2 separate regions of the Homo sapiens genome follow, and region 1 is linked to region 2. Evidence: fine-mapped expression QTL. A gene starts in region 2. The other region holds a variant in brackets. All regions are shown on one strand. Distances are from middle to middle.

Region 1 (5,215 bases), 64 kb before region 2:
GATACAATGGACTTTGGGGACTCGGGGGAAAGGGTGAGGGGGATGAGGCATAAAAGACTACACATTGGGTACATTGTACTCTGCTTGAGTGATGGGTGCACCAAAATTTCAGAAATCACCACCAAAAAACATATTCATGTAACCAAACATCACCTGTTCCCCAAAAACCTACTGAAAATAAAAAAATATATGGGGAAGAAAATATAACTGTTTATATTTAATTTTATACTGTATGTTTTAAAAATTATATTTTTGTTTATGTTTCATATATGTGAACATGTATAATGGATTAAAAATAGATATCAAGAGTGAGTGTTCAAAGTATTTTAGTCATCAAAAAAGTTTGGATGCTATTGTAGTGTGTCAATAAAAAGAGTCAAACTCTAAAATATTTGAAGAGATTTATTCTGAGCCAAATACGAGAGACAATGGCTTGTGATACAGCTTTCAGGAGGTCCTGAGAACATGTGCTTAGGGTGGTTGGGGTGAAGCTTGGTTTCATACATTTTAGGGAGGCATGAGACATCAATCAAATACATTTAAGAAATACATTGGTTTGGGCCAGACGCAGTGGCTCATGCCTGTAATCCTAGCACTTTGGGAGGCTGAGGCAGGTGGATCACCTGAGGACAGGAGTTCGAGACCAACCTGGCCAACATGGTGAAAACCCATCTCTAGTAGAAATACAAAAATTAGCCAGGTGAGATGGTGAGTGCCTGTAATCCCAGCTACTCAGGAGACTGAGGCAGGATAATCACTTGAACCCGGGAGGCAGAGGTTGCAGTGAGCCAAGATCGCACCACTGGACTCCAGCCTGGGTAACAGAGTGAGACTCTGTCTCCAAAAAAAAAAAAAAGAAAAGAAAAGAAAGAAATACATTGGTTTGGTTCAGAAAGGTGGAACAACTCAAAGCACGGGGTTTCCAGGCTATAGGTAAATTTAAACGTTTTCAGATTGACAATTGGTTGAGTTTGTCTAAATACCTGGATCAATAGAAAGGAAATGTTTAGGCTAACATAAAAGATTGTGGAGACCAAGGTTCTTTTGTAGTCTTATAGTGGCTGCCCTTAGAGACAGTAGATGACAAAGATTTCCTATTTGGACCGTTAAAAGGCACTAGACTCTTACTTAATCTCTTCAGGATTGGGAGGGGCTGGAAGAAAAAGATCTAGCTATGTTCATAGATTCTTTACAAATGCACATTTTCCCCCACAAAGGACCATTTCAAAATATGGCAAAGTAGAATATTTTGACTTTCTTCTTTGTCATGTAATGTTATGCCAGAGTCATATAGGAAAGTAAGTCATGATATATAGGGTTAAATAAAACCCATCAGATGAGAATTTATGATTTGTAGGGCATGATTCGCCAGACCCCTGAGCTAAAAGAGGATGTTCGAACCCATCGCAAGAAAGCTAAAAAAACCTTGAAAAAAGATTAGACGAATGGCTAACTAGAGTAAACAGTGTACATAAGACCTTAAATGACCTGATGGAGCTGAAAACCATGGCACGAGAACTTCATGATGAATGCACAAGCTTCAGTAGCCAATCCAATCAAGTGGAAGAAAGGTTATCAGTGATTGAACAACAAATTAATGAAATAAAGTGAGAAGACAAGGTTAGAGAAAAAAGAGTACAAAGAAACAAAAAAAGCCTCCAAGAAATACAGGACTATGTGAAAAGACCAAATTTGCATTTTATTGGTGTACCTGAAAGTGATGGGGAGAATGTAACCAAGTTGGAAAACACTCTTCAGGATATTATCCAGGAGAACTTTCCCAACCTAGTAAGGCAGGCCAACATTCAAATTCAGGAAACACAGAGAACAACACAAATATACTCTTTGAGAAGAGCAACCCAAAGACACATAATTGTCCGATTCACCAAGGTTGAAATAAAGGAAAAAGTGTTAAGGGCAGCTAGAGAGAAAGGTCGGGTTACCCCCAAAGGGAAGCCCATCAGACTAACAACAGATCTCTCGGCAGAAACCCTACAAGCCAGAAGAGAGTGGGGGCCAATATTCAACTTTTTAAAGAAAAGAATTTTCAACCCAGAATTTCATATCCAGCCAAACTAAGCTTCATAACTAAAGGAGAAATAAAATCCTTTACAGACAAGCAAATGCTGAGAGATTTTGTCACCACCAGGCCTGCCTTACAAAAGCCCCCAAAGGAAGCACTAAACATGGAAAGAAACAACCAGTACCAGCCACTGCAAAAACATGCCAAATTGTAAAGACTATTGATGCTATGAATAAACTGCATCAATTAATGGGCAAAATAACCAGCTAACATCATAATGACAGGATCAAATTCACACATAACAATATTAACCCTAAATGTAAATGGGCTAAATGCCTCAATTAAAAGACACAGACTGGCAAATTGGATAAAGAATCAAGACCCGTCAGTGTGCTGTATTCAGGAGACCCATCTCACGTGCAAAGACACACATAAGACACACATAGGCTCCAAAAAAAGGCAAGGAGGAAGATCTACCAAGCAAATGGAAAGCAAAAAAAAAAAAAAAAAAAAGCAGGGGTTGCAATCCTAGTCTCTGATAGAACAGACTTTAAACCAACAAAGATCAAAAGGGACAAAGAAGGCCATTACATAATGGTAAAGGCATCAATTCAACAAGAAGAGCTGACTATCCTAAATATATATGCACCCAATACAGGAGTACCCAGATTCACAAAGCAACTCCTTAGAGACGTACAAAGAGACTTAGACTCCCACACAATAATAATGCAAGACTTTAACACCCCACTGTCAATATTAGA[C/T]GGATCAACGAGACAGAACGTTAAAAGATATCCAGGACTCGAACTCAGCTCTGCAACAAGTAGACCTAATAGACATCTACAGAACTCTCCACCCCAAATCAACAGAATATACATTCTTCTCAGCACCACATTGCACTTATTCTAAAATTGACCACATAATTGGAAGTAAAGCACTCCTCAGCAAATGTAAAAGAACAGAAATCACAACAAACTATCTCTCAGACCACAGTGCAATCAAATTAGAACTCAGGATTAAAAAACTCACGCAAAACTGCACAACTACATGGAAACTGAACAACTTGCTCCTGAATGACTACTGGGTACATAACGAAATGAAGGCAGAAATAAAGATGTTCTTTGAAACCAATGAGAACAAAGATGCAACGTAGCAGAATCTTTGGGACACATTTAATGCATTGTGTAGGGGGAAATTTATAGCACTAAATGCCCACAAGAGAAAGCAGGAAAGATCTAAAATTGACACCATAACATCACAATTAAAAGAACTAGAGAAGCAAGAGCAAACACATTCAAAAGCTAGCAGAAGGCAAGAAATAACTAAGATCAGAGCAGAACTGAAAGAGATAGAGACACAAAAAACTCTTCAAAAAATCAATGAATCCAGGAGCCGGTTTTTTGAAAAGATCAACAAAATTGATAGACTGCTGGCAAGACTAATAAAGAAGAAAAGAGAGAAGTATCAAATAGATGCAATAAAAAATAATAAAGGGGATATCACCACCGATCCCACAGAAATACAAACTACCATCAGAGAATACTACAAACACCTCTACGCAAATAAACTAGAAAATCTAGAAGAGATGGATAAATTCCTCGACTTATACACCCTCTCAAGACTAAACCAGAAAGAAGTTGAATCTCTGAATAGACCAATAACAGGCTCTGAAACTGAGGCAATAATTAATAGCTTACCAACCAAAAAAAGTCCAGGACCAGATGGATTCACAGCTGAATTCTACCAGAGGTACAAAGAGGAGTTGGTAATATTCCTTCTGAAACTATTCCAATCAATAGAAAAAGAGGGAATCTTCCCTAACTCATTTTATGAGGCCAACATCATTCTGATTCCAAAGCCTGGCAGAGACACAACAAAAAAAGAGAATTTTAGACCAATATCCCTGATGAACATTGATGCAAAAATCCTCAATAAAATACTGACAAACCAAATCCAGCAGCACATCAAAAAGCTTACCCACCATGATCAAGTCGACTTCACCCCTGGGATGCAAGGCTGGTTCAACATATGCAAATCAATAAACGTAATCCATCACATAAACAGAATCAATGACAAAACCGACATGATTATCTCAATAGATGCAGAAAAGGCCTTCAACAAAATTCAACAACCCTTCATGCTAAAAACTCTCAATAAACTAGGTATTGATTGAATGTGTCTCAAAATAATAAGAGCTATTTATGACACACCCACAGCCAATATCATACTGAATGGGCAAAAGCTGAAAGCATTCCCTTTGAAAACCGGCACAAGGCAAGGATGCCCTCTCTCACCACTCCTATTCAACATAGTGTTGGAAGTTCTGGCCAGGGCGATCAGGAAAGAGAAAGAAATAAAGGGTATTCAATTAGGAAATGAGGAAGTCAAATTGTCCCTGTTTGCAGATGACATGATTGTATATTTAGAAAACCCCATCATCTCAGCTCATAATCTCCTTAAGTTGATAAGCAACTTCAGCAGTCTCACGATACAAAATCAATGTGCAAAAATCACAAGCATTCCTATACACCATTAACAGACAAACGGAGAGCCAAATCGTGAGTGAACTCCCATTCACAATTGCTACAAAGAGAATAAAATACCTAGGAATTCAATTACAAGGGATGTGAAGGACCTCTTCAAGGAGAACTACAAACCACTGCTCAATGAAATAAAAGAGGACACAAACAAATGGAAGAATATTCCATGCTCATGGATAGGAAAAATGAATATCATGAAAATGTTCCGTACTGCCCAAAGTAATTTAGAGATTCAATGCAATCCCCATCTAGCTACCAATGACTTTTTTCACAGAATTGGAAAAAAACAACTTTAAAGTTCGTGTGGAACCAAAAAAGAGCCCTCATTGCCAAGGCAATCCTAAGCAAAAAGAACAAAGCTGGAGGCATCACGTTACCTGACTTCAAACTATACTACAAGTCTACAGTAATCAAAACAGCATGGTACTGGTACCAACACAGATATACAGACCAATGGAACAGAACAGAGGCCTCAGAAATAACACCACACATCTACAACCATCTGATCTTTGACAAACCTGAGAAAAACAAGAAATGGGGAAAGGATTCCCTATTTAATAAATGGTGCTGGGAAAACTGGCTAGCCATATGTAGAAAGCTGAAACTGGAACCCTTCCTTACACCTTATACAAAAATTAATTCAAGATGGATTAAA
Region 2 (5,190 bases):
GTGTTGTTCTATAAATATACTAGCACCTTCCAACTTCTGTGCCTTTGTTCACAAGAGGCTGTGTAGCACAAATGGATATATATAAGTCTGCGCTTCTATATATATATGAATGGATATATCCACTTATATATAAATGGATATATAAGTCTGGGCTTCAGAGTCAGATCTAGGTTCAAATTTCATGCATGGCACTAACTGGATGTAGACCCTAGGGAAATCATCAAACCTCCCTGCATGTCATATCCTCATCTGCACATAAAATGTAGTTAAAAGCCACCTAACTGAAATGATTGCTGTAAAGTTTAGTAGCAAATACGCAGAGGATGTCTAGCACAATACCTGGCATGTAGCAGGTGCTCAGTTATTGATAGCTCTTATACTCACTTGCAATTTCAAATCCTACCCATCCTTTGAAGTCCTTTCAAATATAACTTCCACCATGTAGCTTGGTCACCCCAACTGGACATGATAGCATTTTCCTTTAAATTTCTGTAATATTCTTTGTGTAACTTTCTCTTACATACTGCCTTATTTTAGCATTGTATACTTGTCTTATCCCTAAAACTTAAGACTGGTAGCACCATAGAGGCAGGCCCTTTGCATTCCCTACAGCAACTAGCACAGTGCATTACTCATTGTGGGAGTTCACTAAACATTTGTTGAATGGAAGCGGATTGCATATTGAGTAATGAGTGATCAGAACCACTGAAGTTAACTGGGGAAAGCTTCACAGAAGAGGGGTGGAGAAGTTTAAATGAAAGAAACTAAAAACTACTAAGCACCTATGACAATGTCACAGTAGGCACAATGTATATATTATCTCATTTAGTACTCTCACTAATTCAGTGATGTGTTCCTATCACCATTTTCCAAAGGAGGAAACTGGGGTTCAGCCTGATTTTACTCAAGGTCACGATAGAACTTAACACAACTCACTCTTATTGCCATATCCCCAGTGCCTAAAGGAGTGCCTGGAACATAGTAGCGGATGCTCAATAAATATTTGTTGAGTGAGTGAAGAGGTGAACAAATGGAGCTAGTAAGCAGCAGAGCTAGGACTAGAATTAAGTTCACTGATCTCCCAGCTCAGTTCACTATGTTAAGTTGCTAATTCAAAACAGAGGAAAGGGGGCCAGGCACGGTGGCTCACACCTGTGTCCCAGCACTTTGGGAGGCCGAGGCGGGCAGATCACCTGACGTCAGGAGTTCGAGACTAGCCTGGCCAACGTGGTGAAAGCCCGTCTCTACAAAAATACAAAAATTAGCTGGACGTAGTGGCAGGCGCCTGTAATCCCAGCTACTCAGGAGGCTGAGGCAGGAGAATCACTTAAACCCCAGAGGTGGAGGTTGCAGTGAGCTGAGATTGTGCCATTGTGCTCCAACCTGGGTGACAAGAGCAAAACTCCGTCTCAAAAAAAGAAAAAGAAAAAAAAAGAGGAAAGGGAAGAACCATTTACTGAGCAACTACTATATAACTAAACACATTGAGAAGAGGGACAGGAGCAGAATATTGACCTCATTATACTCCTCAGTTCATGGTACTGATAGTATTAGACACGTTACATAAATTATGCCATTTGATCTTTCTAAAAACTGTTTTGAGGCAGGTATTTTTATCTCCATTTTACAGATGAAGAAACACCCTCCCTAAAATGACTTGCCGAAACTCACAAAGTGGGTGGATTCCATCCCAAGTAAAGTTTAACTCCAAAGCCTGTGTTCTTAAAATACTTGTCCACACTTTGGGCTTGCAGTGGAAATTCTATCCCTTGCAGAGACAGGAGCAAGAGAGTATAGTGAAGATGGCCGGGCACAGTGGCTCACGCCTGTAATCCCAACACTTTGGAAGGCCGAGGCAGGAGGATAGCTTGAGCCCAGGAATTCGAGACCAGCCTGGGCAACATGGTAAAACCCCGTCTCTACAAAAAAATACTAAAAATTAGCCTGGTGTGGTGACACGCACCTGTGGTCCTAGCTACTAGGGAGGCTGAGGTGGGAGGATCACGTGAGCCTGGGAGGCAGAGGTTGCAGTGAGCAGAGACCGCGCCACTGCCCTCCAGCCTGGGTGACAGAGTGAGACCTTGTCTCGATTTTTAAAAAAGTAAAAAATAAGAAAGGAGAACAAGTATGGTGAAGAGAATGGCAAGGAGCTGCGACAGGGGTTAAACCTGGCCTACTGGGGTCACTGAACAAGTCAATACTAAAGTTATAAGCAACAAAACGTTAATGTCCCACGGGAAGCAATCTCTCATTATTCCTTCAACAAAGGCTGGTGACAGGTTTTGATAAAATGAGGGGACAGCAGAAGAAAAGATAACTTAAGAAATCACCTAAAGTTCGCCATTTAACACAATGTAGGGGACGATGACGAGACCTGGGAGGATGGGAAAGGAAAGATCGGAGTTTCACAAAAAGACCTGGAAGGAACCACGAGGGCAGGGGGCAAAGCGGTTAGCGCAAAGAACAGGTGCAGTGTTGGGACTGGTTCTGGCATCGGGTACAAGAAGGGCCTGCCGGGCGGAAGGAGCTCCGGCTCTCAGGCCACGAGCCCGTCCCCCGACTTCTTTAGGGGGCACTCTGCCTCACCCTCGGTCCCTTTTGTCGCAGATCCCAAGCTCACCAGGGGCCTGGGCGATGCTGTCCCCGGGTCTCCTGGAGACTCCTCCGCTTCCGCCATCTTGGCCCTCCTTCTCCCGGGTCGCTCCCACAGGTCTTTGCGGAACCTGCGACGTGGAGGCCACTGCCGGTCAGCGCGTCATCGCGTGACGGCCGCGTCACCTAATGGCGCCTGGCAATGGCCGGCGGCCCCGGCCCTTCGCTGTCCCTCGGTCCTCGGGGTGTCAGGGACAGCTCCGCGTCGCCTTGTCTCGCTTCTTCGGGGCCACGGGTCCAGCTAGACACGCTTAGCCTTTAACACTCAAGCCGGATTCTCAGACCGCTCCTTCGCTCTCGCGACCACGGCTGCCCTCTCCACCCCACCGACTCCCGCCCATTTCCCGTTCTCAGGAGTTGGCTTGGAGTGCCAGACCCTCGATCACGGCACCTCTAGGAAAGAGCCTGCCTCTCTTCCTTCCCTTCCCCGGCTACCGAGCGACTTCAAGTTTTCGTGCGCCGGAATGACGGGCTCAAGCCCCAACCTCCTGCTCCCTCCGCCGCCGCCCCTGCCCCTCTGACTCTGCGCCTCTCCTGCTGCTCGCAAGCCTCTTCCCACTTCCTTGACTTTTATAAACCTCTCTACTGCCTCCACGCCGACCCTCCAGGATTACTTTTCTCCAGCACCTCTGGCGGTGGGCAGGGAAGAAGCTTCATTGGCCAAACTTGTTAATCCCACTTCAAAAGTTGCTAAACCATTTGGAGCAAGTACTGAAAATGTTCAGGGTCTAAAAGAGAGTAACTATTGTGACAATAACTTAAAAGATAATCTTCATGTCCCAACCTGTTTTCCTTATCTCATCCTTTTGGGCTTTCAAGGTATTTCTGGTCCCAGTTTACGTTGGCCCCAGGCTAAAATGTAGTCAGACAGGGCAGCCATTGTTGACAGCATCAGCATCCAGGATACCTGGGTGCCCTTTGGTGGTGTTAAGCATTTAACCAACAAGGCAGGGGATGGCTGTGAAATAAAAGTGTTTTATATTTTTGGATAGGCAATCCAAGTAGTAAATTTAAGGAGGAAGAATGTGGAATGTGGAGGGACAAAATTCCAAACGAATGGAGGTGTTTTTTTTTTTTTTTTTTGGTGTTTGTTGTTTTGTTTTGTTTACGATAATTCCCCTTCAGACCAAGCACAATTTTAGTACTTGCACAAATACTGGTGGAAGTGATATTAAAATTTAAGCCAGTAGACATGAAATCTTTTTGCAATTGCAAGGGAATATCATGTACAAATGTCCCAACCCCAGCCTGAGCTTCTCACCTCATCCTCCCACCCCATGATTACCAGATCACTACCTCCCGTCCCACTTCCCTGAGGCCATTGATAACGTCTGCTATTTCCTTGCCAACCTCCAAAATTAGCTATTTCTCCCTAGCCACAAGCCCCTCGCTTCTACCCCTTCTAACCTCATCTATTGGCCCTCTTGGCCACTTATTTCAAGGTAGCCTTGGTGATAGGTTAAGAGGAGGACAGGCCGGCCGGGCGCGGTGGCTCACGCCTGTAATCCCAGCACTTTGGGAGGCCGAGGCGGGCGGATCAAGAGGTCAGGAGATCGAGACCATCCTGGCTAACACGGTGAAACCCCGTCTCTACTAAAAATACAAAAAATTAGCTGGGCGTGGTGGCGGGCGCCTGTAGTCCCAGCTACTCGGAGGGTGAGGCAGGAGAATGGCATGAACCCGGAAGGCGGAGCTTGCAGTGAGCCGAGATCGCGCCACTGCACTCCAGCCTGGGCGAAAGAGCGAGACTCCGTCTTAAAAAAAAAAAAAAAAGAGGACGGGCCATAGGACAATTGAGGCAGGCAGTGCTCAGGTTAGTTGGGCATTATTTCAGACTACCAATGCCTGTTCTCCCCATTTAACTAATAGGGTACTGGTTGGGTGTGAGACAATATGCTTTGTAGAAAGAAAATCAGGAAGGAAGGTTGTGAAGGAAGGGGCTGCACAGGAACAAGCTCCCAAAACTAGGAATTATTCTATGTTTTTAGTTGCAAGTGTATCTCAAAAAATTGCCAGACTAACTCAGAGTTCTTTAATACACCTACAGTCATTACTGTTTGCCAGATCATGGATATTTACAATACAGCAGGACTTGCATGACTTGTCCAAAGTTACTTAGAACCTTTGTAAGTGGTAGAAGTGGAATTAATATTTAAGTCAATAGGTATGAAGAACTTTGTTGGCTAATCTGTATTTCAGGACACTATAACATACAACTCTATGAAAATAACCAGGAAATATTAAGGAAATAATTTCCCAGAAAAATGATCAGAATTGACTCAAAACAAAGTGGGGAATTTCATTAAAACAAAATTTTGAAAGGAAAAATTTAAAACACATGTTAAAAGCTGGCTGGGCGCGGTGGCTCACGCCTGTAATCTTAGCACTTTGGGAGACCGAGGTGGGCAGATTGCCTGAACTCAGGAGTTCGAGACCAGCCTGGGCAACATGGCAAAACCCCGTCTCTACTAAAAATACAAAAATTAGCCTGGTGTGGTGGTGCGTGCCTGTAGTCCCAGATACTCGAGAGGCTGAGAC

Direction of the effects. Positions count from the first base shown, and alleles are read on the strand shown. Sizes are in standard deviations (SD) of each study's normalised expression.
For the expression in fibroblasts of the gene that starts at base 2,693 in region 2, allele C in region 1 goes with a higher level than allele T (moderate effect, 0.48 SD a copy in GTEx).

The links.
Region 1: its variant is fine-mapped to the expression of YIPF6 in fibroblasts (GTEx, PIP 0.99).

Annotation. Positions count from the first base shown.
Region 1 is chrX:68,560,926-68,566,140 of GRCh38, reverse strand. No RefSeq gene overlaps it. Among named protein-coding and RNA genes, the nearest start is that of YIPF6, 64 kb to the right of the region's middle. The variant C/T (reference allele first, on the strand shown) is at 2,785.
Region 2 is chrX:68,496,554-68,501,743 of GRCh38, reverse strand. It overlaps YIPF6 (Yip1 domain family member 6), which reads right to left and starts at 2,693. Exons shown (of 7, transcript NM_173834.4): 1 at 2,621-2,693. The coding sequence starts at 2,677. RefSeq lists enhancers at 2,575-3,054, 2,853-3,527.